Regions from separate parts of the Homo sapiens genome. Here regions 1, 2, 3, 4 and 6 are each reported to be linked to region 5. The links are microRNA targets in miRTarBase. Many come from high-throughput screens and were not tested one by one. Region 5 holds a microRNA gene; each other region holds the end of a gene's coding sequence. Distances are from middle to middle.

Region 1 (5,344 bases), not on the chromosome of region 5:
ATCCTAAATGGCTATGGAATAAATTTATTCTGAGCAATATCTCAGTCTCACACTCACTAAATTCTAGGGTAGTTCTATTGAAGATGTTTACCATGGTTTAGCGCACTGAGCCCTGCACCCTTCCCCAGGCTGCCAGGGAAGCAGAGAGGTACAAACATTCCTAATGCCCCAGTCAGCCTGTTCTCCCTATGGGGTCCCTGGATTACCTGCAGGGACCTGGGGGAAATTGGCTCCCTGTCTTCAGCTGAGAGTCTGGAATCTGAACCCTAGATGAATCTACTGAAGAATGCTCAAGATGATGGATACCAAGCTGAGTGAGTCTAGGGGAGAAGAGAGGCCTGAACAAAAGAGCTGGGGCCTTCAAAGAGGTGTATGAGAGGTGAGGTTAGTAGTGCCAGGCTTTCCTATCTTTTCCTTCTAGTTTGCTAGAAACAAGTACAACTTTAGGGTGTGGGGGGAAGGCAGGTAGACATGAAGAAATGGAAATACAGTTCATTCTGCTAGACATTTTAAACTGGTTTGGCTTGAGAAAAATAGAAAGTCTGTGCCTGAGAACCTTCTTTTCCTCTCCCTTATTTAAGTACAATAGCAGCTATAATCTGTGCAGTTCAGCTCCAAAAAACAGGGCTCCTGGAAGATGGCTTTCATGGCAGAGAGTTGATGGGGTAGATTAATGGGCTCTAGGTAAGGAGCAACACCAAGGGTCCCTGAAAACTGAGGCCAACACCTGCTCCCTGGGGGGGGGCCATTTGTATTCCCTGACCCATGTAACAAGCCTGGCCAGCTGTGGGTGGAATCCATGTGGTTCTATCAGAAGGCTGCAGCCAACATCAAGGCCAGGCAGTCACCAGGGTCAGCTGGGATCTGAAGGGAGGCTTCTAAGACCAGACACCCTGTTAGTACTAAAGATGATGATTTGGGGGTGGGATGCCTGGAGGGGCTGGCACCATTCAAAAAAGTATTGGAAAACATTAGCCAAGAAAAAGGCTCCTTGTCCCTCCTAATCCATATCCAGATACCCCCAACCAGAGATCTTAAAAAGGATAGACCAGCCATATGCCAACATGCCAGGATTCCAAAAGCATGCCTCAACTAATTAGGGTATTCCCTACAGCAGACTGGGGTAGAGGGGCTCCATCCTGGCAATAACCAGAGAGCCTTACCTCGCCTAGGCCAGGGTATGGAATCTAGATGAAGACTGTCCACAAACAGTGGCTCTCAAGCCTGGGCTAAATAAATAATATTTTGCTTCATTACATGGCCAAAGGAGAGGAGGAGATAGAAAAGATGATATTACTACCTCTGTGGGCTGGAAGAACTTCACCTGTTGGTTGAAAGGGGATTAAAGGAAGATAACAGGAAAACCTGGTCTGGAGAAGACATAAATGAAAGCTCCTGGAGGCCACTTTTCTCTGATTAGAAATCTATCCTCACACTCTGCCCCTAGTAGACTTTAGCCTTTGGAGTTCTTAGGGAAAACTGGCTTTAAGCAGCAGCCAGATCACCAAAAACATTTTCCATCTGGTACAGGACCCGGAGCTGAAGCCAAAGTAGATTTTGGAGGAACAGCTGGACAAGCAGGATGTGTATGTCTTACACTAAGAAACTGGTCCCTGTATCAGGGACTTAACTCTTACTTGAGATGTACAAAGTAGATCCTACTAAATTGCCCTTTGGAAGAGAACAATGGGCGGAGGTTGGGTAGGGGAAGGCTTTTTTTTTTTTTTTTTTTTTAAACTGTAAGAGAATGGTTTTTTAATGGAGGTAGCAGGCCAAGTGAAAAAAAGATTCTGCCCCCTGCCTTCCTGGGAGATTGGGAGTTGGCAGCCATCATTCCCAAGCTGATGAGTGGCATATGACTCACCAAGGTGGTACAACATGGGTGGGATTTTTCAAGGACAATTGCCAGACCTAAACCATCCTCCTCAGAAAATGGCTTTGAAGTGGGACTGCAGCACTAGGAGAGGGCAAATTCAAGATCAATGGCCAATAATAAGTACCTGAACTTTAGGTCTATAAGCAGAAGGGCATGGATTTCACCTGAGCCAGAAGGAGATGTGTAGCAATAGAAGCAAGAATGGCATTGTTTCAGAGGAAGGAAAAGCAGAGCTTGGAGCAGGATGCCTCTGACTAACCACAGTGGGGAGGTGGGGGTGGGGCAGACTGTGCCTTCAGCTCCACAGCTGGTCTACACCAACTTCCTCTACTCCCATCCAAACAGGTGGGCTTTACTATCATATGTAATCCACCCAGAGGCACAGGCAAGCCACTAAGGCAATGCACTACCGTAATTCAAACAGAAAGAAGAGGCATCTGGATTATAATTGTCACAAGGAAGGGAAAACCCAAACCAGGTACAAGGATCCCAAACAGGGAAGATACGCAATAGCTCTAAAAAAAAAAAAAAAAAAAGCAGGCTACTAAGTTTCAGTGATAATAGATAATAGGAGAGGCAGCCATGGGTGATCAGTTATGTGGACAATGGCCATTGAGATTGAATTTGACAAGGCAAACTGCTTCTGAGTTTCCTGATACAAGCAGGATGTTCAGCAGTAAGGACAGAGTAGCAGACTTCACCAGGCCCTGAGGCCATCCTTGCTCCCTTCAGGTCCTGGGACAATCAGGCCACGCTGACCTGCTTTATGAAGGTTCCAGAGCTGAAGGTTGGTCCCAGGTGGTGGTCCAGAATCCAAGCAGAGAGGAAAAGGACCAAGCTCAGGCCTCCTGAGCGAGGAAGCATCCATATCTCTTTTTGGTCTTCCTCACAGTATCCTACTTACCGAAATGACAGACAGTTCTTCCTCTTGAGACCAATTAAGATTGACCTACCTAATATATAGAATATAAAAAAATACAGAACTTTTTGACATTCTCTCCTTTAGAAGTAAAATATACATGATCCAACTATGGAAGAGGAAGAAGAAGAAGAAGAAAGGCCAAAGGCAGGGATCCCTGACTATCCCAATACATGACACTCTCACTCCACCCTCCTCTGCAACTTACAGGTCACCAGAGCAAGGACTTTCTCCTCAGGAGAAAGGAAGGACCACAGCCCCCTATCTCAAGCTTAGGAGAAAATACAGCCACCTCAGAGGTTCTCTCAACCTCGAGGGGGAATTTTCAAGTAAACAAATGAAGTTGGGTCGCACCATTTGGAAGGTGAGTAGGAAATATGGGATCAGTAGCTACACGTGGGAAGCCCCATCTGAAGGCCTGTGCTCCTCCCCTGCACTCCCACTGGTATACTTGAGACACTTCAGGAGAGTGAGGAGGATCCCCCAAACTAAAGAGGTCTGGGCAAAGAGTCAGAGGGAGGGAGGGACCTTTGTTTCATGGTAGCCTCCCCAGCCTCTAGTCCCAGGCAATGCAGGCAGCTGGGTTTACTAAAACCAGGAACTTGTGGCTCTTGGGAAGAGCAATCTTAATACAAGAAAAATGTGCAAAAGAAAAAAAAATTAAATAACTCAATCCAAGCGTACAAGATTAATATTCTGTCAGAGCAAGAACACTTTGTTTTGGATTTCTCCCTTCCCCTCCCACCTCCCACCTCTGGAATATACCGTCTGCTCAAGTACCCAAGATAAGAGTTACACAGATCAGGGCAGAGGACCGGGAAGAATGAAAAAAGATAAAGGGAAGGAAGTCACCACTGAAGAAAAAAAGAAAAAAAATAAAAATAAAAAAAGGTGCAAATTGATTACCTTAGTCCTCCTTTGTCTACCCCTGGGCTCCTGGGTTAAAGACATGTGTGCAGCCAAAATATAGTGTAAGGAAGAAAAACCCAACACGTCCCCTTCTTGTCACAAAACCCAAAGGTGAGCCTCAGATGGTTCTGTCTGTCCAGAGGGTGCTCCCTCCAGGGAAGGGGGCGGAGCAGGTCAAGAGCACAGTCTCCAGGGCAGCAGAGGTGTGTGGTGGCTGATGGTGGGGACACTGGTTTCCCGCCCACCAGAGGGCTGCTCTTCCGCTGGCTGGTGGTGCTTCCCATCCCCTCCCCTCCCTGGAGGCAGATATTATAGCTGGAAGCCCTCCATGGGGGCCTCAGGCTGCTGGAAGATGAACTGCTGTTGCGTTTCATCGACTTGGGGAGCCAGGCTGCTATCATCGTCTTCTACACCAAAGTAGTGCTCAATGAGGTCGAAGGCCTTCTGGTAGATCTCCTGGTTCTCGTGGCTCTGGAGAAACTCAATTTTATCCAAGCCTACAGTAGTAAGAAGGAAGGAGAGGGAAGTGTGAGTGCTTTTCTATGGGCAGGTGAAACATTTACCTATTTTTCCTTCCCTGAGGTATGTTAGTGCTTACAAACACAAGTCATATGATCAGATCACTCTTGGACCTGAAAGGGGAGAGTTAAGATTTCTTCTCAAAACTACAGAATCCCAAAGGAAAGAGACCAAAATGTCAGTTACAGAGGTTCTAGTCCTGATTCTGCTTTAAACTAGAAGCATGACCTGGGCACATCATCAGCCTCTCAGGGATGAGTGATGAGTTAATCCAGCACTCTTATAGGTACAGCCTATCAGAAAGAGAACTGACCTATCACTCCTTAGAAGGAGAAGAAACTGGTGAGAGACAACTCTCAACTCAAAAGATGAGCCAAATCCAAATCCTAGCTGTACCCCAGCTACTCAGCACATCCTGATTATACTCATGGTAACGTGTGAAACCCTGTGGATGGTGAAACTTGGCTAGGGCAGGAGCTCTTAACTGTTCTGAAGACACAGACATCAGTCTCATGGAAGCTATGGATGCTTCCCAACCCACACTCCGCCACCACCAACATATGTATACCACGTTGGAGGCCTACAGTCTCAGGTTCTGACCTAGATTGAGGAGAGGGCACATACCATAGGCTTCCTCTATGAGGCCACAATAAGGATTGACCCCTGAGCCACTGCGCTTGCCCTCTTGCTCTCCAAGCCGCAGGATGTTCTCCAGTCCATTGAGGGCCACTTGCACAATCTTCGAATCCATTACAGTCAGCAAGTCACATAGGGGTTTGATGCAGCCCAGTGAGACCAGGTACCTAGGGGCCAGAGACCAGGCAAGTGCTAAACTAGTACAGGACACATGAAGTGCTGGGCAGGTGCTCTGAACTCTCAGCAACCCACTCTTACTAATTTATTTTTTTATTTTTAAGAATTGTGAGGCCGAGCGCGGTGGTTCACACCTGTGATCCCAGCACTTTGGGAGGCTGAGGTGGGCGGATCACAATGTCAAGAGATCGCGACCATCCTGGCTAACATGGTGAAACCCCGTCTCTACTAAAAAAAAATACAAAAAAAAAAAAAAAATTGGCCAGGTGTGGTGGCGGGCACCTGTAGTCCCAGCTACTCGGGAGGCT
Region 2 (4,000 bases), 69 Mb from region 5:
AGTATAGATGATTCTGTTTTTATGTATTGAGCCTTTATTTGACCTTGAAAGTGTAAATTGCATTGTTAAGATCTCTGTGGTAGTTTGTATTGTTCTGAAAGGAATATAAAACCCATTAACAATCTGTTTTATGATTTTAAAATGCAGATTAAATTTCAAAATGGAAAAACATCTTTGCACAATTCCAATTACAGTTCTTGCTCTTTCTTTTTTTAAAAAAATAGAAATTGATCTTAAAGAAGCACAAAGATTTTTTGCTCAAAAATTCTCCTGTGGTGCCTCAGTAACAGGGGAGGATGAAATTATCATTCAGGGAGATTTTACAGATGACATAATTGATGTCATTCAGGAAAAATGGCCAGAGGTGAGTGCATGGAACACATACATCGCTAGAGATAAGTTTTTAAAGCAAATTGCTTCCATTTTTTCTTAATTGCAACCACAACTCATGAGATATAATTATTTGTGTTTTATAGGTAGATGATGACAGCATCGAAGATCTTGGAGAAGTAAAGAAGTGAATTTGAAAATTTGTCTGTATTTAATGGCCTGAACTGAGAGTTGATATGGCCAAAGGGAGAGAGGCCTTTTAAAATATATATATATATACACATATATATGTATATATACACATATATGTATGTATACACATATACACATGTATATATACATGTGTGTATGTATACATGTATATATATATACATACACATATATGTATACATATATACACATATATGTATACATATATACACATATGTATACATATATATATATTCTACAGTAAAACTGTAGACTGTCCTCGTCCTTGGCATTTTCACTGTTCTGTACAAGGCTGCTTGTTTTTTTATTGCCAAAGTCAAATAAACGGGAGACTGTCATGCTCATGCATGAATAGAATTTAGTCAAATAAAAAATTTTGGTCATTTGGTACTGACTTTCTCTCTCTCTCTCTCTCTCTTTTTTTTTTTTGACAGAGTCTCGCACTGTTGCCTGGGCTGGAATGCAGTGGTGCGATCTCGGCTCACTGCAACCTCCGCCTCCCGGGTTCAAGTGATTCTCCTGCCTCAGCCTCCCAAGTAGGTGGGATTACAGGCGCCCGCCACCACGCCCAGCTAATTTTTGTATTTTTAGTAGAGATGGGGTTTCACTATGTTGGCCAGGCTGGTCTCGAACTCCTGACCTCGTGATTGGCCCACCTCAGCCTCCCAAAGTGCTGGTATTACAGATGTGAGCCACCGCACCCAGCCTGAGTTTCTCTTTCTCTCTTTTTAACTTTATTTTTTGAAAAACCCGGTAGACTTTTTGTGGGGAGCATTTTTGTTGATAATTTTACTGATCTAAAGCTGAGTGATTTTTTAAAAGAATTTGAATTTGGCTTCCTCACCAGTAATATGTCTCCTTGCTTCTTTGATGTGATAGTTTTGAGATGGGTGAGAATCTAATAGATCTGTGGTTGAATTTGCTGTGTTGTTATGAAGTCCACCCTGTGGGCACAATAACATAACTGTTGGTAGGAGTTGTTTGAGCTATTCTGGAGATTATTTGGTAAAGTATACTAAAAGCCTTAAAACCATGTATGTGCGCTGTTTGAACCCGTAAGCCACTTCTTTGACATTAGAAGACATTAGAAGAAATAATCAGCCTTGCATAAAACTTATGGATGAAAGTATTCATCACAATATTATTTATAATAAAAAATTGCAAATGTTATAAATGAACAATTGGGAAATGGTTAAAGAAGTGATGGTGCATTGTGTGGTAGAATATTATGCATATGTTTAAAGAATCATATTTTCTAAGATTATTTGGAAGCATGTTTGGTAATGTCAAGTGGAGTACCCCAGATACATTTTAGACATTTATCGTCATCATCTGCTCTGAGTGGAAGGCCGTTCAGAGAGGCTAGAGGTTCTTATTCTGGCTATAAATTATGTGAGTAAAATTGTGCTAACCAGTTAAAAGTACTGTACACCCATGCTCAATATATAGTCCTGGAAATAGCAATTGAAACATGTCTTCTCACAAGAGAAAATGACAGTTTTAATGATGTATTTGATGAATTTAAACTTTAAGTCAGGTGCTGCAAATTGGAAAGAAGACTTGTGGTGTTTTAAGTTGCTGTGGACACTTTTAAGAAACTTAGAACCCATGGAACCCTTGTTTATCGCCATGCAAATTACAATCTTGAATGAGTGTTTTTTAAAAATAAAGTATTAGAAAAATGTGTAGTAAAGATGTAAAATTAAAAAATGGAATTCTCCATTAACTGTGGATTTTACTAAATAGAATTACTGGTGAAGCAGATTTATCCATCGAGACTATCTGGTATGCGTTATGTATGTAGTCTGTTGCTGCTGAAAGATGTCTGTGTGCCTGTATCAACATGTGACTTCATGTAAAGTTTCTTTGTGTTCACAGTTCTTAGCAAATGCAGTTACAATCCATAGATAGCCAGCAGTGGATGTTACTCCAGGAAAATGCAGGATTAAAATTGTCCTTGTGTATAACGTGTGAATCATTTTTTTAAACTGAAATTTAAAATGCAACATAGTTTAATCTCTGATTAAAATGTACTAATAGGGCCAAGCTGCTTTGATGCATGGCTATAATCCCAGCCGAGGTGGGAGGATCACTTGAGTCCAGGTTCAAGACTAGCCTGGGCAACATGGCAAGACCCTGTCCCTATAAAAAATACAAAAATTAGCCAGGCATGGTGGCGTGCGCCTGCAGTCCCAGCTACTTGGGAGGCTGAGTTGGGAGGATCACTTGAGCCTGGGAGGTTGAGGCTGCAGTGAACTGAGATCACGACACTGCACTCCAGCCTGGGCAACAGTAAAACCTGGTCTCCAAAAAAAAAAAAAAAAAGTACTAGTAGTTCAAAAATTGACTTTACACATTCTCACAGTCTACCATTTTTAGTAAAAAACATGAACCTTTAAGCAGCCTTATAAGAGATTTTCCATGATTAAGCTGGCAACTTTTAATGCAAATACTTTTTGCATATAGTTTGGTAAGTATTTCATTTTTTAAAAACAGATGCTGACAGTAAGTGATTTTAAACTTTTTATTACTACATAAAAGCCAGTCTGTGGTAGCTTTCTCACTCTTAGTTTAAAAGTTGATAAATTACTGTTTTAAAGATGAATTTTACCTTTTAGTTCCCTGTTCTCATTATTTACTAAATTCCTTTACCTAGGAAATCAAATAGGGAGACTGGGAAAAGTTCATTCAGAACTTCAGTTTGGATTAGACTGTGTGAGTATAAAATCAGATGCAGTGTAATTCTTGTAGCTTTCACCTCTGTCATATTTTTAAAGTTATGTATTCTCTTTAATTTTTTTTGTTGTTGTTGTTTTAATGAAAACCTGTGGGGAGCGAAGGTAAAAACTTGAGATTTTTAATTTGTACCTTGCCATCATAATCCTCTTACTATACTCAGTTACTATTTATGAACCATAATCAAAATGAGCCTAATTTCTTACTATTCTAGATACACACAATTTTATTCATTTTTGAGACAGAGTCTCGCTCTGTTGCCCAGGCTGGAACGCAGTGGCATGATCACAGCTCACTGCAGCCTTGATCTCCCAGCCTCAAGTGATCCTCCCACTTCAGCTTCTGGAGTGGCTGAGACCACAGGCACATGCCACCATACCCAGCTAATTTTTAAATTTTTTATAGAGATGGGGGGTCTCCCTATGTTGTCCAGGCTGGTCTCAAACTCCTGAGCTCAAGCTATCCTCCCACCTCAGCCTCCCAAAGTGCTGGGATTACAGGTGTGAACCACCACACCCAGCCTGTACATGTATTTTTACTTGAGTGTCACACATGGTTGCCTGGTGAACAATGGCACTCGAGGACTTTCTAGAAAAATATCAAGTCTTAACAATGGTGAAACCTAAGAAACGTGAATTAAAACACTCCTCACTTCAAAAATTGACATTCAACCCACATTCCTTTACATCTCATCACCACCAACTTACTGCAGTCATCTACTGCT
Region 3 (5,225 bases), not on the chromosome of region 5:
CAATAAAAATTCAACATTTACATGACTCAGAGACATTTGTTTAAAAAAAAAGAAAAAATTCAAAGTTTTTTTTTTTTTTTGTATATTCAATGAAATGAGTAGTTACTGAGTTATAGTGTCCCGTTTTCTTCTCATGACTGCTACCATTTAATCATGGTAGTAGAGAGAAATGAGTGAGCAGCCATTTCAGAATTGCTTCTGAACATGAAAATTTTGGCTAGACTTAGACCTTAATGACCAGTTTTCCTCGTGATCATTTAAGGTTTTAGTTTGATGCCTGTAATCCCAGCACTTTGGGAGGCTGAGGCCAGAGGATCACTTGAAGCCAGGAGTTTGAGACCAGCCTGGGCAAAATAGCGAGACTCTGTCTCTACAAGAGAAAAAAAAAAAAATTAGCCAGTTGTAGTGGCTTGAACTTATAGTCCTAGCTTCTCAGGAGGCTGAGTCAGGAGGGTTGCTTGAGCCCAGGAGTTCGCGGTTACAGTGAACTATGATTGCGCCACTGCACTCCAGCCTGGATGACAAAGTGAGGCCCTGTCTCTAAAAAATAAAGTTCTAGTTATCAGAAGTGCCATTTTGATGGCACACCTACTGGATTTATTATTTTTCAGGGCCATTATGCTGTGATGAACAACCCCACCAGACAGCCTTTGGCCCTAAACGTTGCATACAGGTACAGCATGCTTTGGGTTTAGGGTTGGTTGTAAACTATTTTGTGCATTCCTTTAATACCTCATACCTCCCTGTGTTCTAGGCGCTGCTTGCAGATTCTGGCTGCAGGACTGTTCCTGCCAGGTTCAGTGGGTATCACTGACCCCTGTGAGAGTGGCAACTTTAGAGTACACACAGTCATGACCCTAGAACAGCAGGTATTGGGACAGATATGAACTGAGTTGTTTTGCCCCACTCTTTTGAATACTGCTGCTCAGCAGGCAAAGCGGAATATGGTCTTTACGGGTCAGGAATTTGGGGATTCTGAAAGACTTTGGTCCTGAGATTTAAAAAGCTGTCTTAATCTCTGTTTTCAGAAGGGTATTACTCAAATAAGGTCCTTTGATTTTCCTTGCTTACTCTCACTTTGCTTTCCTTCAGGACATGGTCTGCTATACAGCTCAGACTCTCGTCCGAATCCTCTCACATGGTGGCTTTAGGAAGATCCTTGGCCAGGAGGGTGATGCCAGCTGTGAGTGACCACTGTGGGTCAGGGGTTTTGTATTGTAATCTGGTACAGAGAAGCTGTACACTACTTAAATGTCTTTAATATTTCCACAGTGTAAGTAATGACTTTTATGCTGGGCTACTCGTCTAAATCACCTTTTTCTCTTTCCTAGATCTTGCTTCTGAAATATCTACCTGGGATGGAGTGATAGTAACACCTTCAGAAAAGGCTTATGAGAAGCCACCAGAGAAGAAGGAAGGAGAGGAAGAAGAGGAGAATACAGAAGAACCACCTCAAGGAGAGGAAGAAGAAAGCATGGAAACTCAGGAGTGACATTCCCTTCACTCCTTTTCCTACCCAAGGGGGAAGACTGGAGCCTAAGCTGCCTGCTACTGGGCTTTACATGGTGACAGACATTTCCGTGGGATAGGGAAGATAGCAGGAAGAAAAGTAAACTCCATAGAAGTGTCATTCCACTGGGTTTTGATATTGGCTTAGCTGCCAGTCTCCCATTTGTGACCTATGCCATCCATCTATAATGGAGGATACCAACATTTCTTCCTAATATTCTATAATCTCCAACTCCTGAAAACCCCTCTCTCAACTAATACTTTGCTGTTGAAATGTTGTGAAATGTTAAGTGTCTGGAAATTTTTTTTTCTAAGAAAAACTATTAAAGTACTTCCTAGTAGGGCTCTTGGTCTTTCTGGTTGGTGTTTTTTGTTTGTTTGTTTTTTTGCATGTGGCAACCTTTTTTGCTTTTGGCTTTGTGTACTCTTTTGTTGAAAATGATAATTGAGTCATTTAATTATAAATACTCAGATCACAATTTGAAGCTGTCTTTGAATTAAAGGACAAACTCCTGGAACCTTTCCATATACCAGAGTAAACTAGAATATCATTTTAAGTATTTATTGAATAAAATGATTCTATCAACACTGCTACTGTATTCAAGCCAGTGCAATAAAAAAGTGGGTGGACAGAGGTCATTCACTTTGACTTTGCCTGCCCCCTCCAAATCCCCAGTGTAAACAGGAAAATGAGAAGTCACAGGTAGAGGACATGCTGTCCAGGCCCATGTAACCAGGCATGTAACATACAAAGGAAGCCCCTCTGGTTAACTAGTCCTGAAGAAGGTAAGCCTCACGTATGCAGCTTAAAAAAAAAAGTAGAGGCCTCAGCTCATTTGTGAAAGGAAGCAAGAGCCATAATTAATGTAAGTCCTTTGGGAACCTCATTCTGGCTGTGTGTAGGTTTCCTGGGGCCCCTACATAAATGGGTAAGACGAAGTGCTTCAAACAAACTGTACGGCTCCCTTTTTAATGTCTGAAGGTCTATGGGGACTGTCTCCTAGGATCTTTGCATGTCTGTTGAAACAAGGCAGCTGGGGAACAGTACTTGTGCTACTGAGTCCATAGGCTCATCTGTTATTTGCCTGGGGAGCCAGGGGGGTAAATTCCCGAATCCAGCATTGCTCTCCTGCGGGCTGTTTCCTTGGCAACACTGTGGTTTAGCCGTCTCAGTCGTTCCTACAAGACAAGGAAGGTTTGGAATCTTAACCACTGTGAAAGGCTTGAGAGTGTAAGTGAACTAGGTGCTGAAAAATACCGGGCGTGATCTACCTCAAAGTCAGTCTTCAAAAGTATATATAAGAATGTAGGCCGGGCATGGTGGCTCACACTTGTAATCCCAGCACTTTGGGAGGCTGAGGCGGGTGGATTACCTGAGGTCAGGAGTTCAAGACCAGCCTGACCAACATGGTAAAACCCGTCTCTACTAAAAAATACAAAAAAATTAGCTGGGCATGGTGGCGGGTGCTTGTAATCTGAGGCAGGAGAATCGCTTGAAACCGGGAGGTGGAGGTTGCAATGAAATGAGATCGTGCCACTGCACTCTAGCCTGGGTGACAGAGGGAGAACTCCATCTCAAAAAAAAAAAAAAATGTAGGCCAGGCATGGTGCTCATGCCTATCCCAGCACCATTTAGGAGGAAGTGGCAGGAAGATCACTTGAGCCCAGTTTGAGAACAGCCTGGGCACCATAGTGATAGCCTGTCTTTTTTTTTTTTTTTTTTTTTTCCCGAGACGGAGTTTCGCTCTTGTTGCCCAGGCTGAAGTGCAATGGTGCGATCTCAGCTCACCGCAACCTCCGTCCCCCGGGCTCAAGTGATTCTTCTGTCTCAGCCTCCCAAGTAGCTGGGATTACAGGCATGCGCTACCACGCCCAGCTAATTTTGTATTTTTAGTAGAGACGGGGTTTCTCTATGTTGGTCAGGCTGGTCTCCAACTCCCAACCTCAGGTGACCTGTCCACCTCGGCCTCCCAAACTGCTGGGATTACAGGCAAGAGCCACCGCGCCCAGCCGATCCTGTCTTTTTATTTAAAAAAAAAAAAAAAAAGGCCAGGCAGGCCGGGTGCAGTGGCTCACGCCTGTAATCCCAGCGTTTTGGGAGGCCCAGGCAGGTGGATCACTCGCATGCAGGAGTTTGGGACCAGCCTGGGTAACATGGTGAAACCCTGTCTCTAGAAAAAATACAAAAATTAGCTGGACATGGTGGTGCATGCCTGTAGTCCCAGCTACTTGGGAGGCTGAGGTGGATGGATCGCTTGAGCCTGGGAGGTAGAGGCTGCAGTGAGCCTTTATCATGCCACTGCACTCCATCCTGGGTGATAGACCTTGTATCATAAAAATAAATAGCCAGGTGTGGTGGTTCACTCCTGTAGTCTCAGCACTTCGGGTGGCCAAGGTGGGAAGCTCACTTGAGCCCAGGAGTTCCAGACCAGCCTGGGCAACATGGAGAAACCCTACTTCTACAAAAAAATACAAAAATTAGCTGGGCGTTGTGCACGCTTGTAGTCCTAGTTACTCGGGAGGCGGAGGCAGAATTGCTTGAGCCCAGGGGGCGGAGGTTGCAGCGAGCTGAGATTGAGCCACCGCACTCCAGCCTGGGTGACAGAGGGAGACTGTCACACACACACACACAAGAATGTAAATGGCAGCAACTGAATAGTGAGAATGAGACGAATTTTCCTAGGTATTTTTCAAGTACTGGGAGAAGTGAATTTCCCTTTCCCCAAAGAATTTTAAAATTACAGTGGCTTTCACTGTGTTGAGGACTTACAAAAAAGGGCAAAGAATCACTGTTGGTAAGATATTCTTTTACCTGAGCATTCTGTAGAATGTTGTTAACCAAGACAACGCGTCGCCGGGCATTAAGTAGCTTCTTAACATAGGGGTCAAGATCCAGGGCCACCTTCTGATCCTCATTTATGCGGCACAGTTCTGGGGATGGAAGTAAGGTGCAGCTAAGATCTAACGGCTTATCTCTTGTTCTGAGGGAAAGCAGGCTGGTAATGGGATGGAAAACACTTGCACCCAAACGGGCCACAGCCATTAGAGATTTAAGACATCCCTGAAAGGAGGAGTCCTTTGGCAGCCCTGATGCCCTGGAAGCAAGTGACAGAAACTCAGCCCAGGGGTTGGCAAAAACCTAAGGTCCTGAAAGTGGGCTGAAGAATTCCGGGTACACAGGGATGCTCACTCACCTGTGGCTAGGTTGTCAATTTGTTCCCGGAGCTCTACCTGGCTCTCTCTGCAAAGAGGTACAAGGCCTACAAGGTCAGGCAGTTACCGGAGCTCAGGAAACGAACTCCCCTACGTATTTACCAAGTACTGAGAGAAGCCGGCCTCCGCTGAACCCTCCACCTGCGGCCTTCCCGCCTGTCCTCCCCGCCTCGAATCAGTTTCCTAAATTTATGCCCACTCCCAGCCAGAACACTTTCTTGGCCCCGCCCCTACAAAGCCAGAGAGACAGGCCCCGCCCCCAACTTCCCTCCCGGGCACCTGACGGCGTGTACGTGAGAGTCGAGCTGCTGCACAGCGGGTCGCAGGAACTCCAGCAGCCCTTCGGCGAAAAGGTCGCGGCCTGTGGGCCCCGCCACCGGGGTCCCTGCCCCCGATACAGCGGCGGAACCAGCCCCCGCCATCACGAATTGTCCTGAAGCCCGAAACCTGCCGCGAGGGCCGCCGGGAACCGGAGCCGCGCCGCACTGCCCCGCCCCGTGAGG
Region 4 (4,000 bases), not on the chromosome of region 5:
TGAGGATTGACTTTATTTGTTATTTGGTTATCCATAAGGTTTAAGTTCTTCAGAGTTTTTCCTCTTTTTATATGTACATTTAAGAAATATAGTCATTTTCTTGATTCCTAGAAATCAAGTTCTGTAATAGATTAGTATATCAGTCATTTGAAAGCTAAGTCTTAGAATATGTAGTTGCTGAACATCTTATTTGGAATAAAACAGAAATAAATAGTTGTTCTATAATGTTCTTATTAAGGCATGATTGGGATCAGTACCTGGTGCCATCCGATCATCCCAAAGGCAACTTCGTTCCCCAAGGATGGGTCCTTCCCCCGCTCCCCAGCAACGACATCTGGGCAACTGCTGTTAAGCTGCATTAGTAAAGATGCTCCAGGAGTGTGGTCCAGCCAGCGCTCTTTCCAGCTGTAAATATTAGCGATGGTGCCATCTTTTGCTGTAGACTAAACTGCAACTTCTAAATTCCATGTGGCATTCCCCTACCCTGAAGTTATGCTTTCCTTCTGTGCTCTGTGCTGGCCAGAGGTGCCTCTTGAATCAGATTAATGTGGTTTTTCAGGAAAGGACTTAGGTGAACTGAGGTTTTTACCACAGGCAGTGAATGACCTTGGTTCACCAAATTTGCCTCTGTTTTGAGGGGCTTGGTCCAGAGTGACTTGTTAATTTACTCTAACTTCCTTGTGTGTTGATGGGTAAGTACACTCAAACACTGAATACAGGTGTGTGATGGGTAGATTTCACAGCCCTTCTACTAATAGTGAGTGTGAAGGCAAGCTTGATGCAAAACCTCCTGACCTTTCCTACCTGAAGAGCCCTTTGACTTCTAGGAAGAAAGGTCAAAAATGTTATCTTCAGTTGTGTTAATCCCAGTTTTAGTGCAGCTTAGGAGGCTGCTAGTTAGGAAGATGGCAGTGGCTGTAGGCTGGGTTGCCAGAAAAGATGGTGGCCTAGTCTTATTATTCAGATGGAGAACTTAGAAAACCTGAAGAGTACCCAAATTGGATTGTATTTTAATGGACAATGGCTGTATTTTTTCCATGTTAGAAGGATCCTAATGAAAGCACCTGTTATTTTTAAGTTTCTAAGGGTCTAGTTGTTCAGAATCCCCAAGGATATTTCCCTAACCTCACTCAGTCACATTGTAGGAGCCAGTGTAGCTATGGAATTATCTTAGGAACTCAAGCTTCTAAAACTATCCATGTAGTCAAATCTAGGGGAAAAAGCAAATAAAAATAGTAAAATTTGGCCGGGCACAGTGGCTCACGCCTGTAATCCCAACACTTTGGGAGGCCGAGGCGGGCCGATCACGAGGTCAGGAGATCAAGGCCATCCTGGCTAACACGGTGAAACCCTGTCTCTACTAAAAATACAAAAAAATATTAGCTGGGCGTAGGTGGTGCACACCTGTAGTCCCAGCTACTGGGGAGGCTGAGGCAGGAGAATGGTGTAAAACCCAGGAGGCAGAGCTTGCAGTGAGCCGAGATCGCGCCACGGCACTCCAGCCTGGGAGACAGAGCAAGACTCCGTCTCAAAAAAAAAAAAAGTAAAATTTATTTTTTATATTCATTAATAAATGCTGTTGTGCTTGGAGATGATCACTCATATAACATGTCATTTTTTTGGTTCTGTTTTGGTTTGGTTTTTGCCAATTATTTTGTTATATTTCCAAAAAACTAAATAAAAATCATTTTTATTTTTTAGTTTGTGCCTTTGCTGCCAATTTGTTGCCTTCCAAATCACTTAACACACACTTTCACATTGATGAAACATATTTTCATTCAAAAATTCAAATTTATTAAGCAGGCATTTGTTACAGGAATTTGAATCTTAAATGCTAAACTTTATCTGCAAAATCCAAGTCTGGATTGGTAAGGATACCATCAATTTTGGAAATAATGTTACGTACTGTAGTTGGAAGCTTTTGGGTGCAAGATACTAATGGCTTTGTCCCTTTTCTGTTGTTTAATTTGCATTAATTTATACATTATATAGAGTCAACAGATAGGGAATGAGGGCCACATGTCTCCAAAATGTATGTCTACGCTTATAAATCTTAAAATCTGATATGATTACCCTCATAGAGCTCCACAATCCTGTGTGCCTTTTTGTTAGATATCTCCACCATTTGCTCTCTGATGAGATGCAGGAAGAGTAGAAATAAGGTGAATTGTACGATGTGTGTTTGGTGTCTGGACAGCCTTGCCACTAAGATATCTGCTGTGAGGGCAGGGAATGTGCTGCAGGGACTCAGGAAAACTCGGACAGCAGAACCCAAGAAGGTGGCATTTAGCCACAGATGGAGAAAAAAAAAATCCCTTTTTCCTTTGGCCCTTGCAAGGTTTTAATAAAGTGATCAGGCTGGGTGTGGTGGCTCACGCCTGTAATCCCAGCACTTTGGGAGACCAAGGTAGATGGATCACTTGAGGTCAGGAGTTCAAGACCTGCCTGGCCAACATGGTGAAACCCCATCTATACTAAAAATACAAAAATTAGTCAGGCATGGTGGCAGGCGCCTGTAATCCCAGCTACTTGGGAGGCTGAGGCAGGAGAATCACTTGAAGCCAGGAGGCGGAGGTTGCAGTGAGCTGAGATCACACCATTGCACTCCAGCCTGGGCAATAGAGCGAGACTCTGTCTCAAAACAAAGAAAATTAAAAAACAAAACAAAACATGAGCATTACTCTTGTTCGGTTTTTATTTGTAAGATTTTCCTGGTTTATTACCTGTGTGTAGTGGTGGTGGCAGTAGCCACTGGTTCTTTCAGGTTTAGAGAGACTCATGGTAGTATCTTTAATGAATTGTACTTTCAAGAATATGAGCAGTGTTATTGTAATGTTATCCCACAGTCTTTTTTTTTCTTTTTTTAACTTGGGGAAAATTTCAAATACATTCAAAAGTAAAGAGAATAGTACAATGATTTTTTTCCATGTACCCATCATCCAGCTTCAAATCATTATCAGCTTATGGCCAATCTTGTTTCATCTATACATCCTCCACTCACCCTGGATTATTTTGAAGCAAATCTCAGGCATCAAATTACTTCATCTGTAAATATTTCATTATGTAGCTTTAAGTGATTAAAAAAAAAATCTAACTACAGGGCCATTATCACATCTAAATAAAGGAGTAACAACTCCTGAATATCACAAATATCCAATCATTGTTCAAATTGCCCTCTCGTAAATGTTTTACGTTTTGTTCAAATTAGGATCTGAATAGACTCCATACACTGTTGTTTGCATCCTTGTGATGCCATGTCCCTCTGTTCTCGTATGTCCTATAATTTAGTAGTTAAACAGAGCTGTACTGTCCAATATAGTAGCCACATTCAGCTGTTGAGCACTTGAAATGTGATCTATTTGAGTTGAGATGTGCAATTACATATGTGGATCACGTTTCAATTGGATAGTGCTGATCTAGAGGCTTGATCACATTCAGATTGGAATTTTCTGGCAGGAATACTTCACAGACATAATGTGTACTTCCAGTCAGGAGGCACTGATGTCTTGGCTTTTTTTGTGATGTTAGCGGCCACTGATAAGACCCAGATTCATTCATTGATGGGGAGGGGACTCAAAAATAGTGATAGTTTAATTCTGTCATTCTTCAATTATTAACTGGAATACTTTTAAAAAGAAAAACTGTACAAAAGCATTTGTTTTTAATAAATTCGGTAAATACAGAGATTAGAAAGCTATGAGAGAAAGAGATTAGTTCTTAAATACTAAGGGTATTTAGCCCAAGTGGCTGAGTTTATGATGTCAAAGAATTTGCTGCTACAAGCCAACCAACTTAATCACTCTATAAAACCATTCATGCTCCTATGCCCATGTGACATTTGTAACAAGAAGCTTAGGCTTATGCCATCTGTTGTAGCTATTCATTTATACACGCTTTGTCTGCAGGGAAGTTCTCCTGGTAATTACAAGGTAAGTACAAAGTATATCTTATTCCATTTAAATAAGTATAATATGCAATATATGAAAGGAATGTGAACATT
Region 5 (5,344 bases):
AGTGAGGGCTCAGCCCTCCCTCTATGTCCAGCAAGGCCTCTCAGGGACCACCTAGGCCCAGGAAAGATCTTCAGAGGCCCAGAAGGTCCTAAGGCTGAGCACGGTGGAGCCACTGGTTCCTGCACCGCAGCTTTGGCACACAGTGGGGGCTGCTGCCAGTCCAGAGGCCTCCTGGAGTGCAGAGGCGTGAAGGCCTTGGACAGCCACAGCATGGGAAAAGCCAGTACTCGAGGCCTAGGTGCCCTTCTCTTCCCCCAGAGGCTCTTGTTGCAGCCAAGGAACAGGAAAGGAGCTCAATTTCACCTCCCTCTACTCACTGCCCCTAGAAGCTAGAAAATTTTTTAAAGGGGTGGCTTAAAGTTTGTGGGTCTCCTTCTACATCTCACAGCCCATTTAGACAATTTTACCCAATACATGCCCCAAACAGACAGGAGCCACTGCATCTTTAGTCCTGTTCTCTCTTTATTTGATATGACAAAATATAGTTTCAGGAAGGACCCAGAGTCAATAAATAGTTGGACAACAGCAATGGGTCAGGAGGGCACAGAAATTCGTGGCAGGGACTATGGGACAGCAAAGGGCCTCTAGGACCACTTGCTGGGGTCCAGTGCCAGGAAACCCCACTAGTTGAGCTAGCTAGCAGGCTGGGGCTGCCGGCCTGAGAGGGCATGCAGCAGGCGCAGGCTGGGGAGGTTCCCGGGTTTTGGGGGGAAGAGGTTGTGGAGATAAGGTTTGGAAAGCATAGAGCAACTGTGGGGGCCCTAGGCCGATGCTCTCCTTTCATATGCAAATCATTCATAAGTGAAAATCTAGTTTAGTCGCTACAAGGAAGCACCCCGAGTCTAGGGCCAGACTCTCGCCAGCCTTTGGCTGTCTAACCCGTCCAGCCGGGAACAAAGGAGAGGGCGAGGTTAGAGGGTCCGGCGAGGGTCCTGTGGCGCGGGCCGGGCCCACCTTAACTCGGGAGGGCCGCGCTGAGGCTGGGAGCCGGAGATACGGCCCAGGCCAAGGTTCGTTCTGCGCCAGCCTGTACGCCGCAGCCCTCCGGGGAAGTCCTGCGGAGCTTGCCCTGGGCCCCGGGTACCGAGCTGAGCCGAGCTGAGGGGAGATGGGGCAGCGCCGACAGCCCCGCGGGAACCCTGGGTCGGTAGGGATGCGGAATGCCAAGGAAAAGCGCTTTTGTCTGTGGGGCCCGGGAGCCCAGTGCTCCAGCACCTGCCCCCGACCCGAAATATAGAGAGGAAAGGCGAAAAGGAAAGGCGCAGGGACAGGAACCGGCTAGGGGCGCGCTCTGCGGGCCTCCCCCGCTGCCTCTAAAGAGCCTCTTTGCTTTTCATTTTGGAATCTTTCTTCCACTTCATCCTGCGGTTCTGGAACCAGATCTTGATCTGTCTCTCATTGAGACACAAGTTGTTGGCGATCTCTATGCGCCTGCGGCGAGTGAGGTAGCGGTTAAAGTGGAATTCTTTCTCGAGTTCCAGAGTCTGGTAGCGCGTGTAACTGGTTCGGGACCGCTTGCCGTCCGTCTCTGGAACATAAACCCCACCCCAAGCCAGGAAGGGGTGAATAGCTTGCAGCGTTCCCCCGTCCCCACCCCAGCCCAGGCCCCCACCCGCGGCCGGAGGGAGAGGAGGCGAGAGCCGCAAGACAGGCCACGCGGGCCGCAGGCGGGCCAGCCCAGCCCAGCCCCGGGAGAGGCGCCTCCGCCCAGGCAGGAAACTTTCCACCGCAGCCTTCACTCTGCAGCCGGAGGGGCTGAGGGGGGGTTGGGGGGAAGAGGGAGACCCAGGCTCGGACCGAACAATAAGCACCCTCGAGATCCGAGCACCGGGGACCCCCCTCCCGCCCCTCCCGAGTCGCTGGAATCCTCCGGAGCCGCAAGCGCCGGCGGAGCCGGCTCCGCAGGGGAGGGAGGGAGGGAGCCGCGGGGGGATCCCCGCTCTGGAGCCCCGCGCTCCTCACCCTTCAGATCCCTCTATTTTTTTAACTCCCTCCCTCTCCCCCAAAAATTGAATATTGCCTTTTATACACGTTTTGTTCCTATGATCCAATTATGTCGTCGTAAATTTGGGCGCACACAGCCTCTAAGCCTTTTAGTGGACAGTTTTACGAGCCATTGATGCCTGGATCGTAAAATTTATGGCCGCAGGTTTTTTTTCTTTATTTGCCCCGCATGGCCTATAAAACCCAGGCGGACCCGAGAGCGCAAAATGAAGTCCTAAAGTTTACCGTGGCTCATGTGCAGTTTGGTCATCCACGGGTAAATCTGTGGCGGGGCCGGTGGCTGGCTCAGTCCGGCGGGCTGCCCTGTCTGCGCCTGCTCCTCTTTGATCTCCCCACTGCTCTTAGCTCGCTCCTCCAGCGCCGGGCGAGCCGCCTTCTGACTGTACATCCCGGGGTTCAGAGGAGCCGCTTCGTCTCTGCCCGGAGCGTGTCCCGGAGCGGCCGCGGCGCTGCAGGCGGGGCGGTCGGGGTGAGCCCGGGGGTTGGCAGCCATGTCTACCCCGTGGAGAGAGTTGGAAGGCGCAGGCGGTGGGAAAGTGATGCTTAAGTCCAATCCGCCGTAGCAGTACCTGGATGCCTGCACCTCTGAGGCCGATCCATAGTTCCCACAAGTTTGCATGTTATAGGCAGGGATATTGGGGCTCTGCTTATAGAATGAATTGGCTACGTAGGAGCTCATGGCGGGGAGGGCCCAAAAAAATTTCTGCACCCTTTTTGATTAAGGGTGATTTGTGACTCTTTGAAGTTGAGGGGTTTTTTGTTCTCCAAAGTGGACAATTTATAGGTGGAGATATCTCTTTCTTTATCCTATGCGCTCTTCCCAAATAAGGGAGCCTTAAATAGAGTCACGTGACTCGAGCGGCCACTCATAAATTTGGCTTGATGACCTCCGGGAGGTTAGTGATGGAAGCCGGCGAAAAGCATCTCGATATGTTGGCAAAGCCCAACCAAGGGGGAGAGGGAGTGAGAGAGAGAAAGAGGGAAGGGGGAGGGAAAAAAAAAAAAAGGTTCTTGGAATTGGGGGTAGCCGGGACAACAAGCCCACAGCGACACCTGGTGCCTATGTGGGGGAATTGCATCCTGGAGCGCCAGCTTGCTTTCCGGTGGCTGGATTTCCTACACTGTGAAGGAGAAGCTGGTTGTTGGGGCAACCCCTGAGCTAGCCTTTTAAATTCTATTTAAAATTGGGAAAAGACGAGGCCCCACTTATAACGCACAGAGTGCTTTTTGTAATGAAAGTCCCGTTCTCCCAACCTCCAGGGTCTTCCAATCTTCAAAAATGGCTGAGGAAAGGGGATTAAGTTAGGTAAGGTGGCCTATGCCCAGGCTGGAGAACCAATGGGGTTTAACTTAGGTTCCCTAAACCAAAGGTAGAAGTCCCTTGCCTCTCAGGCCCTAAGGCTCCACTACTGCTGAAGAGGTGCCTATCAGCAAGAGAAAGTAGAATTAGCTTCTGAAGAGGTAGACAGGACGCCCAGGAGGAGGGATCCTGAGTGGTCAGAACAAGATAGGGGGGTCATGAAGCTGAGGGTGTTGCAGGCTGTTTGGGATGGATCTGGAGGTGAGGAGCCAGGTGGAGTTGGCTAGACCTCACCATGCTAGGGTCCCCAGAGTGGCAACAAGGCAATTTTCAAGTGTGTGTGTGGACACGGACAGAGCCAGACAATGGTCTAGAGGACTGCTCTGTTTCCCTGTGTGCGATCCTTATGTGGTACCTATGCCAGAGGTTTTAGACAGAAAATAGATGTTAATTGAGGACATGGAGAAGCAAGATTGAAGCCTCCACAAATATTACGTGAGCATGGCAGAGGAAAAGGCCCGTTATGTGCCCTTTGGGGAAAAGGTCTCTGGGCTAGGCTTTCCAGGGACCTGAATCCATAAGGTTCACAAGAGAGCAATTTCTGAGCTACCAAGAGGAATGGGGCGGACCTGGGGGGTGGGCAGGGCAGGCGCCTGGGTAGCCTTCGCAGGGTATCTGCAGCCATTCGGCCCCATCCTCTTCCCCCGTAGCCCCAAGTCTCATACTTCCCTGCCTGCTTCTTCCCAGGAAATCTCCGCCCCGCCAGGAGAAGGCCCCCTCCTCACTGGTGGAGGCACTGGAGGCGAGGGTGGGGGCGCTGGAGGGAATCTGAAGGGCCCGGAAAACTCTGGCGGATTTTTTCCCTCCGGAGACCCTCCTCAACACCTCTCCCTGTAGGCCCACTCAGGTTTCTCTGGCCAGGCTTGGAGAGAGAAGGCCAGGGTTGATAAATGGTTAGGGTCCGGCTGCGCTCCTCACCCGCCTCTTCACCCGTTTGAGGAGAGAAAAGTAAGGAACCAGCCCGGCTGGAGCTGTAATGAAGAAGGAATTTTGTCCCGGCCACGTCAGGAGTACCAGAGCAGGCGAGAGCTCAGTTTCCAGGCTTTCTCTCTCGAGATGTCCTTGAATCGCTCAATCCCTGCCGACAGGGCTCCAGTCCCGCGGTCTTCTCTTTCCCTCCGCTCTCCGCCTCCGCTACGTTTCGCAACAGCCAGCTTGGCGCGGGCCTGGGGCTTGCTCTCACGGCGCCCCCCGCCTCCAACTCCCGGGAGTGGGTGGAGGAGACCCTGGTGCCTGGATAGTGCTTCTTTACTGGTCTTTCGGGGCGCCTCAGGGTTCGGACGCCGAGGACACCGGCTGCCACAGGCAGGAAGAAAGGCCTGCGTGGGGTTGGTGCCCAAACCGACTGATCCCAGCTCCCCCCGCAACAAAATCCTACGCGGCTTTTTCCCGCAGGGTGTGTGTGTTGCTCCGCGCAGGGAGCCCAGAGAGGCCTCCCAGCCCCTCAGTGCGATCGCGAGAACGAACAGAAGGCCGGGGCCGGGCGCCTGGGCTCCGGGGAAGGCGAGTGCAGAGGGCTGGGGGCTTGCAGGGGGCCGGCAGGCGCGGGAGCGCTTGGAGCCTGCTCCAGCTCTCACCCTGAGGCCGGCGGGCGAGCGAATTAACAGAATTCCCGGTATAAAGTTTTAAAAATAATATCAGTTTTATTAAATATTCGAGAACGGACCCAGAGGTTGGATTTATACAGGAGGGTAACACGAAGGGATTTATTTATTTATTTATTTTCTCCTACTGGCTAAACAAACGTCATTCACTTTTTTTCTCTCTTTTTGTAATTTTCCCTCTTTTTTTTCCTTTTTTGAAATTGGATAGGAACACTGACGGTGCTAAACATAAATATAAATACAGAGACCACAAATACAGCTAAAAATCTTCACACAGAAACGGTCACAGTTTGTAAAATGCCATAATGACCCCCAGGATTCTTTAAATACAATTTGCCTGGGCTGGGCATTTGCTGGGGCAGAGGGGCTAGGCAGG
Region 6 (5,327 bases), not on the chromosome of region 5:
TAGGTAATTTACATGTTGTCTCCGTGCTTTATATTATCTTCTGGTATAATAGTAGATTACTTCAGAGTGTTAAAATGTTGCTAGTCGTAGTTAATACTAAGCTTTGGGATATCTTATCTCCCACTGGAAGCTTGCTGTCCTACAAAACCAGTCTCACATAGGGAATTTTTGTCTTTGGTTAGTATTTTGAGTAAAGTAAATTATGCTTTGTAACATTTTTTCTTCTCCGTCTTTTCAGGTGGGAGCTTGTTGGATCTGTGTCTCACTGCAGAGCTGGAGCAGGAGTAGCTGTGTGTTCCTGTTTAACTAGCCAAATTCGAGATGTAGGTCATGGATCCAATAATGTGGTTGACTGTATGTGATTTGAGTTCTGGCCACCAACAATTTAGTCATATCTGATAGGTACAAAAGAAAACCAAGATTTTGATATGACCACCTTTCAACACTTTTTACTGCAACTAGAGTCTTATTTAAATGTTAACTGTTGTATTGTGACTAAGTACAACTTTTGGAATGATACCTGAAGAATTATTAGTAATAGAGTTAAATTTGATACTTCCTGCTTTTGCAAATAATGGAGTAGGGAAGAAGATAGTCGAACTTAAAATCATACCTACCCTGAAAAATGCTTAAAGTAGTGCCAAAAATCTTGAAATCTCTCTCTCTCTCTCTATTTGGATGAATCAAAATGTAATTTGTTGAGTTTTGCCTTTTCTTTTGCCTAAAGATGTTAACGTCAGGCAGTGGGTTTTTCCTAGAGGAGAGATTAGTACCTATTCATTAACACAAGGATACATAAGAGACTTGCCCCTTTTGAAGATCATTTCTACTTGGTGCTGATGAATTTATGCCTAGCTTTTTTTTTCTAGGTGGTGATTTTTCAATTTCTTTTATATTTACGGAAGTAGAAAAAATGTTCTGTCTTTTTGAATGCCACTTAGCTGCATTTTCAGAAGCTTATAGGCTATAAGAAGCCTTTAATTTCAGTTTGAATTGCTAGGACACCAAAAGACCTAGCTGGGCTAACTCCATCCAAATGATTTTACAGTTTTATTTTTTCATCTTTTGCAAAAAGTATTTGTTACATAATCAAAAGGTGAACCAGAGGAAATATTGAACAAGGTTTTAGATCTGATGTTATTCTGGTGCCCAATTGAGAGACCTTGAGAAAGAATGATGCAGATTACATGACTCTAATGTGGGCAGTCTGAAAATATCTTTAACTGTCTTCTTTGATCATTTGATTTTGGATCCAAGATTTATCATCTCTCTATTTTGCTATTTGCCACCATCCTGGTTTTTCTGACTGTACAGAATCAATCTGCATTTATTTATTATCAGAAATGAATGCATTTTTACAAAAACCTTTTTGTAGACTGTAGTTTATTGATTAGTTCAAGCCCATCACGAACTAATTAAACATATTGTTGGTAAAAACAGAGATTGAAATTACTGTTTTTATCATATTTAAATCCCTCTGGTGTATTTATTGAAATTTAATTAAAAATATTTCTACATATTGATTTGAAGCCAGGATATTGATGGACCTACAGATTTAACAGCTCTTCAAAGTTTTAACTAGCATTATAAAATGGCCTATTCATTATATGTATATTTTTTTATAAATATTTATCAAGAACATGAAAATATTTTATTTTGTATTTGCAGTGCAGTTTGGCACCTCTCTTCCAGGCCTTCCTAAGTTTTTGTTAGTTGTGTCTTCGAATTTATTGTAGTTCACCGCTGGTCAGTAATCTGGTTCATAAGGAAGCTGGGGCAGTGAAAAACACTTCGTTGATCCATCCAGCCCTAAAGTTCATTGACTAATAGCTCATGCATCTTATTAAATGGGATTCTGGACTTCTACAATAGTGTGGAAAGCCACATCACAAAAAAAGCCACATCACAAAAAAAAGCCAGTGCCTATTGAGTATATCAAACCAAAAAAGAAAAAAAAAAGTTTTAAGAGGGGTCAGGCTGGCAGATAAAAGTCTCTTATGAAGCAGATATAAATCCAGTAAGCTATTTTTTTCTACCTATGGGCAAGTTCATAAGTCATTGCTGGATCTGAACCAGTGTTCTTTTGTGTAAGTACAACCATATTTCAGTCAGTCCAGAGGCAGTTAACCCTGTAGCACTTACTAGACTGGTGACAACTGGCTGGATGTGGAGAATAAGTGTCAAAACCTGGCTTCAATGTCTATTTCTTATGTCTAATGGAGTTCTTATATTACAGTGTTTGTTTAGCTATGGTTACTAATATGTTTGTTATATTTATTTTCGGGGAGAGGATCTTGTTATTGTTTCCTGAGATTATTTAAAATGTTTTTTCTTTGATGTATTTCTGTCTTTCTTATATGTAAGGAGTTATAAGGGTTATTATATTTTCATTTCTGGTTTTTACTATACAATGGTTATCTAACATACTAAGTTGGTACCCTACCTACCCGTAAAATATGAAATACTCAGAAGTAAAGTGTGTGGGCAATCAGAAGCATAGCCTTGAAGGACCTGACAGCAGTATGAAAAGATAAATAGGCCAGGCATGGTGGCTCACGCCTGTGATCCCAGCACTTTGGGAGGCCGAGGTGGGTGGACCACCTGAGATCAGGTGTTCAAGACCAGCCTGACCAACATGGTGAAACCCTGTCTCTACTAAAAGTACAAAAATTAGCCAGGCGTGGTGGCGCATACCTGTAATTCCAGCTACTCAGGAGGCTGAGGCAGGAGAATTGCTTGAACCCAGGAGGTGGAGGTTGCAATGAGCCGAGGTTGAGCCATCGCACTCCAGCGGTGAAACAAGAGTGAAACTCCATCTCAAAAAAAAAAAAAAAAAAAAGATAAAAAAGCAGAATCAATATGTGCACAGTTCTCTTTATCAGGCAAAAACACGTTTATTGAGACATGAAATGAGAATCAGGCTGAAGGAATCATGCAGCTGAAAGATGATTATATTCATAGAAATGAAGAGATGAAATATTCAAAGAAGATGGCTACTTTATTGTGAGACTTACCACTTTAACCTCATATGTTAACAGCACCTACCAAAAAATGATATGAGATAGAGCTAAAATACTGAAATTGCAAATGGACAAAATAAATCATGAAAATTTGTTTATTATTTCTTCAATAAATATTTCTAGGTGCTTTGTGATTCTTTCATTTAGTCATTAAAGCCATTGCTTTACTATATTGCGTTGCCACTTTAAAAACAAGTTACTTGACATTGTTTTTGACAGATTTCACTATATACTTATGTAATTAATTGATTATTTCTAAAATGTTTGAATAAACTTTGTACTCCCTCTAAGGAGTATTTTATTCATTCTTTTAATTCCCAAATGAACTTTGAACTTACAGTGCTGTTGAATGCCTTGGTAAGGACTTCTTGAAATTGCATAAACTATTCTTGTAAATGGTAAACTTGAGAATTTTCTTTGTTTCTTTTTTCTCTATGTCTTAAAGAATGCCTTTAGAATCTAATTCATGTTGTATCAGTTAAGAATGTTTCTGTGGTTTCTCGTATCAGATGTGTAAAGAAATTATTACTGGGATGCCATTGGCTATGTCTCTTTCCCCTTCATGTAAAATTCCAAGTGTCAGTAAAACTTCTCTATAATATTTTCTTAAAACCATTTATAAATTTGTGTTATAATACTCCAGAAAATCAATGTAATAAGTGGTCATATATATCACCAACTATGGATATCAAAAAGTTGGGGTCACATCAGTGCTATTTATTTAATTAAAATACATTGCATATTTCTATTAGCACAAACTTCTCTCTAAAAGGTCTGTGTAACTGCTTCTCATCATTATTTGATTGCTGTTATGGGATCCTGTCAAAACTGTGTAATTGTTTATTCTCCATTCCTCAAATACAAAATTGAGTAGGTTGGCTATATTTTTCTCCTTATATGAAGGATCTTTATGTTTAACTGAAAATTTTAGAAAGCTTTTCGTTTTCCCTTATGAAAATTAAAGGTTGAAGGTAACTGATGTAAGTAGTTTCACTGATCTTAAGCAGTTGTCTCTTCAGTAATTGCAGACTTGTACTATATAGAAATGAGACTATGCATTAGGATGACTGTTGTCCTTCCAAGTAGAAACCTTGCAAAGTTGTAGCTTTTTAAAAAAATTAAGGTTGCCATTGCTAAAACTTCTTTTGAAACTCATCTTTGAAAATAGCCTGAAGAGATCATTTGTAAGTCACTCAAAAGAATTAGTCTCATCATAGTCATATGTTAATCTTGACCAAAATCTTAACTTGATTATTCATCAAACATGATTGAAAATATTTCATGTCTATTTTCATAGGTAAAATCTACTTTCAAAGAAGTGAGGTTTTTCATCTACTGGTAAAAATGTTTTCAACACTAAACAGTTTGAATGAAATATTTCTAAAATCCTGAGCAATGGCAAGGTCAGTGAAAGAAGTGTATAGTCTCTTTGAGAGGCAACCTTATTTGAATGCAGAAATTCTGGTGCGTTTTTTGTTGTTTTTAACAAGTCACTCTTCCATTATCTTAGTGGTTTGAGGCTAAGTTCAGTAGAATATAAGGGGTTTCTTAGATATGAGTAATAGTTATGGGGAGTATTAGCTATCATTTAAAAAAATGTATCGCCTGTACCAGTCACTTAATAACATTTCTCATCTTTACAGTAATTTGATACTTCACCGTTAAAAAAAAGGTTCAAAAGTTAAAAAGAAAATAGATTCAAAGACATTAAATAACTAGTTGAAGATCACAACTAAGTTAGTGATTGACTAATATTCTTTGTGACTAAAAAACTCAACTGCTCCACCTATATCAGTTATACATACTTCTGCATTCACTAGGTAATACAGTATGCATACATTAAGAAAAGATCATTTCCTTTTTTTGTAGTCTCTTCTTAGCAGTATGAAAGTATTTCTGGTCACTACATTTCTCTTTTGTTGTTGTTGTTGTTGTTGTTGTTGTTGTTTTTTGAGATAGAGTCTCACTCTGTTGCCCAGGCTGGAGGGCAGCAGCATGATCTCGGCTCACTGCAACCTCCTCCTCCTGGGTTCAAGTGATTCTTCTGCCTCAGTCTCTTTTTATTTTATTTTATTTTATTTTATTTTTTGAGACAGAGTCTCACTCTATCGCCCAGGCTGGAGTGCAATGGTGTGATCTTGGCTCACTGCAACCTCCGCCTCCTGGGTTCAAGTGATTTTCTTGCCTCAGCCTCCTGAGTTGCTGGGATTACAGGTGTATGCCACCACACCTGGCTAATTTTTGTATTTTTAGTAGAGATGGGGTTTCACCATGTTGGCCAGGCTAGTCTTGAACTCCTAACCTCAA

The links. The annotated mature microRNA hsa-miR-615-3p reads UCCGAGCCUGGGUCUCCCUCUU and lies in region 5 at 1,775-1,796, opposite strand. An mRNA with a match to its seed (bases 2 to 7 or 8) in the 3' UTR can be bound and repressed. Matches are read on the target gene's strand: a 7mer-m8 pairs with bases 2 to 8, a 7mer-A1 pairs with bases 2 to 7 and ends in A, and an 8mer does both.
Region 1: miRTarBase lists KPNA6 as a target of hsa-miR-615-3p. The part of its 3' UTR that is shown has no 7-base or 8-base seed match.
Region 2: miRTarBase lists DENR as a target of hsa-miR-615-3p. The part of its 3' UTR that is shown has no 7-base or 8-base seed match.
Region 3: the mRNA of ILF2 is a reported target of hsa-miR-615-3p. The part of its 3' UTR that is shown has no 7-base or 8-base seed match.
Region 4: miRTarBase lists PDCD7 as a target of hsa-miR-615-3p. The part of its 3' UTR that is shown has no 7-base or 8-base seed match.
Region 6: miRTarBase lists KLHL8 as a target of hsa-miR-615-3p. The part of its 3' UTR that is shown has no 7-base or 8-base seed match.

The regions. Positions count from the first base shown.
Region 1 is chr1:32,169,564-32,174,907 of GRCh38, reverse strand. It overlaps KPNA6 (karyopherin subunit alpha 6), which reads right to left. Exons shown (of 14, transcript NM_012316.5): 13 at 4,848-5,026; 14 at 1-4,201. The coding sequence ends at 4,014. Among named protein-coding and RNA genes, the nearest start is that of TXLNA, 7.4 kb to the left of the region's middle.
Region 2 is chr12:122,768,558-122,772,557 of GRCh38, forward strand. It overlaps DENR (density regulated re-initiation and release factor), which reads left to right. Exons shown (of 8, transcript NM_003677.5): 7 at 225-364; 8 at 477-2,507. The coding sequence ends at 521. Among named protein-coding and RNA genes, the nearest start is that of CCDC62, 4.0 kb to the right of the region's middle.
Region 3 is chr1:153,658,663-153,663,887 of GRCh38, reverse strand. ILF2 (interleukin enhancer binding factor 2) reads left to right here. Exons shown (of 14, transcript NM_004515.4): 11 at 612-673; 12 at 755-869; 13 at 1,093-1,183; 14 at 1,332-2,100. The coding sequence ends at 1,492. It overlaps SNAPIN (SNAP associated protein), which reads right to left and starts at 5,185. Exons shown (of 4, transcript NM_012437.6): 1 at 5,002-5,185; 2 at 4,704-4,750; 3 at 4,322-4,440; 4 at 2,036-2,688. The coding sequence starts at 5,144. The coding sequence ends at 2,587.
Region 4 is chr15:65,115,079-65,119,078 of GRCh38, reverse strand. PDCD7 (programmed cell death 7) reads left to right here. Exons shown (of 5, transcript NM_005707.2): 5 at 239-1,700. The coding sequence ends at 362. UBAP1L (ubiquitin associated protein 1 like) reads left to right here and starts at 3,879. Exons shown (of 6, transcript NM_001163692.2): 1 at 3,879-3,929.
Region 5 is chr12:54,030,462-54,035,805 of GRCh38, reverse strand. It overlaps MIR615 (microRNA 615), which reads right to left and starts at 1,856; the gene lies at 1,761-1,856. HOXC5 (homeobox C5) reads right to left here and starts at 2,756. Exons shown (of 2, transcript NM_018953.4): 1 at 2,230-2,756; 2 at 445-1,528. The coding sequence starts at 2,683. The coding sequence ends at 1,314. HOXC6 (homeobox C6) reads right to left here. Exons shown (of 2, transcript NM_004503.4): 2 at 4,983-5,344. It also overlaps a transcript of HOXC4 not described here. RefSeq lists a silencer at 1,658-1,717 and enhancers at 1,801-2,952, 2,947-3,241.
Region 6 is chr4:87,158,554-87,163,880 of GRCh38, reverse strand. It overlaps KLHL8 (kelch like family member 8), which reads left to right. Exons shown (of 10, transcript NM_020803.5): 9 at 1-3; 10 at 239-3,778. The coding sequence ends at 362. Among named protein-coding and RNA genes, the nearest start is that of KLHL8, 59 kb to the left of the region's middle.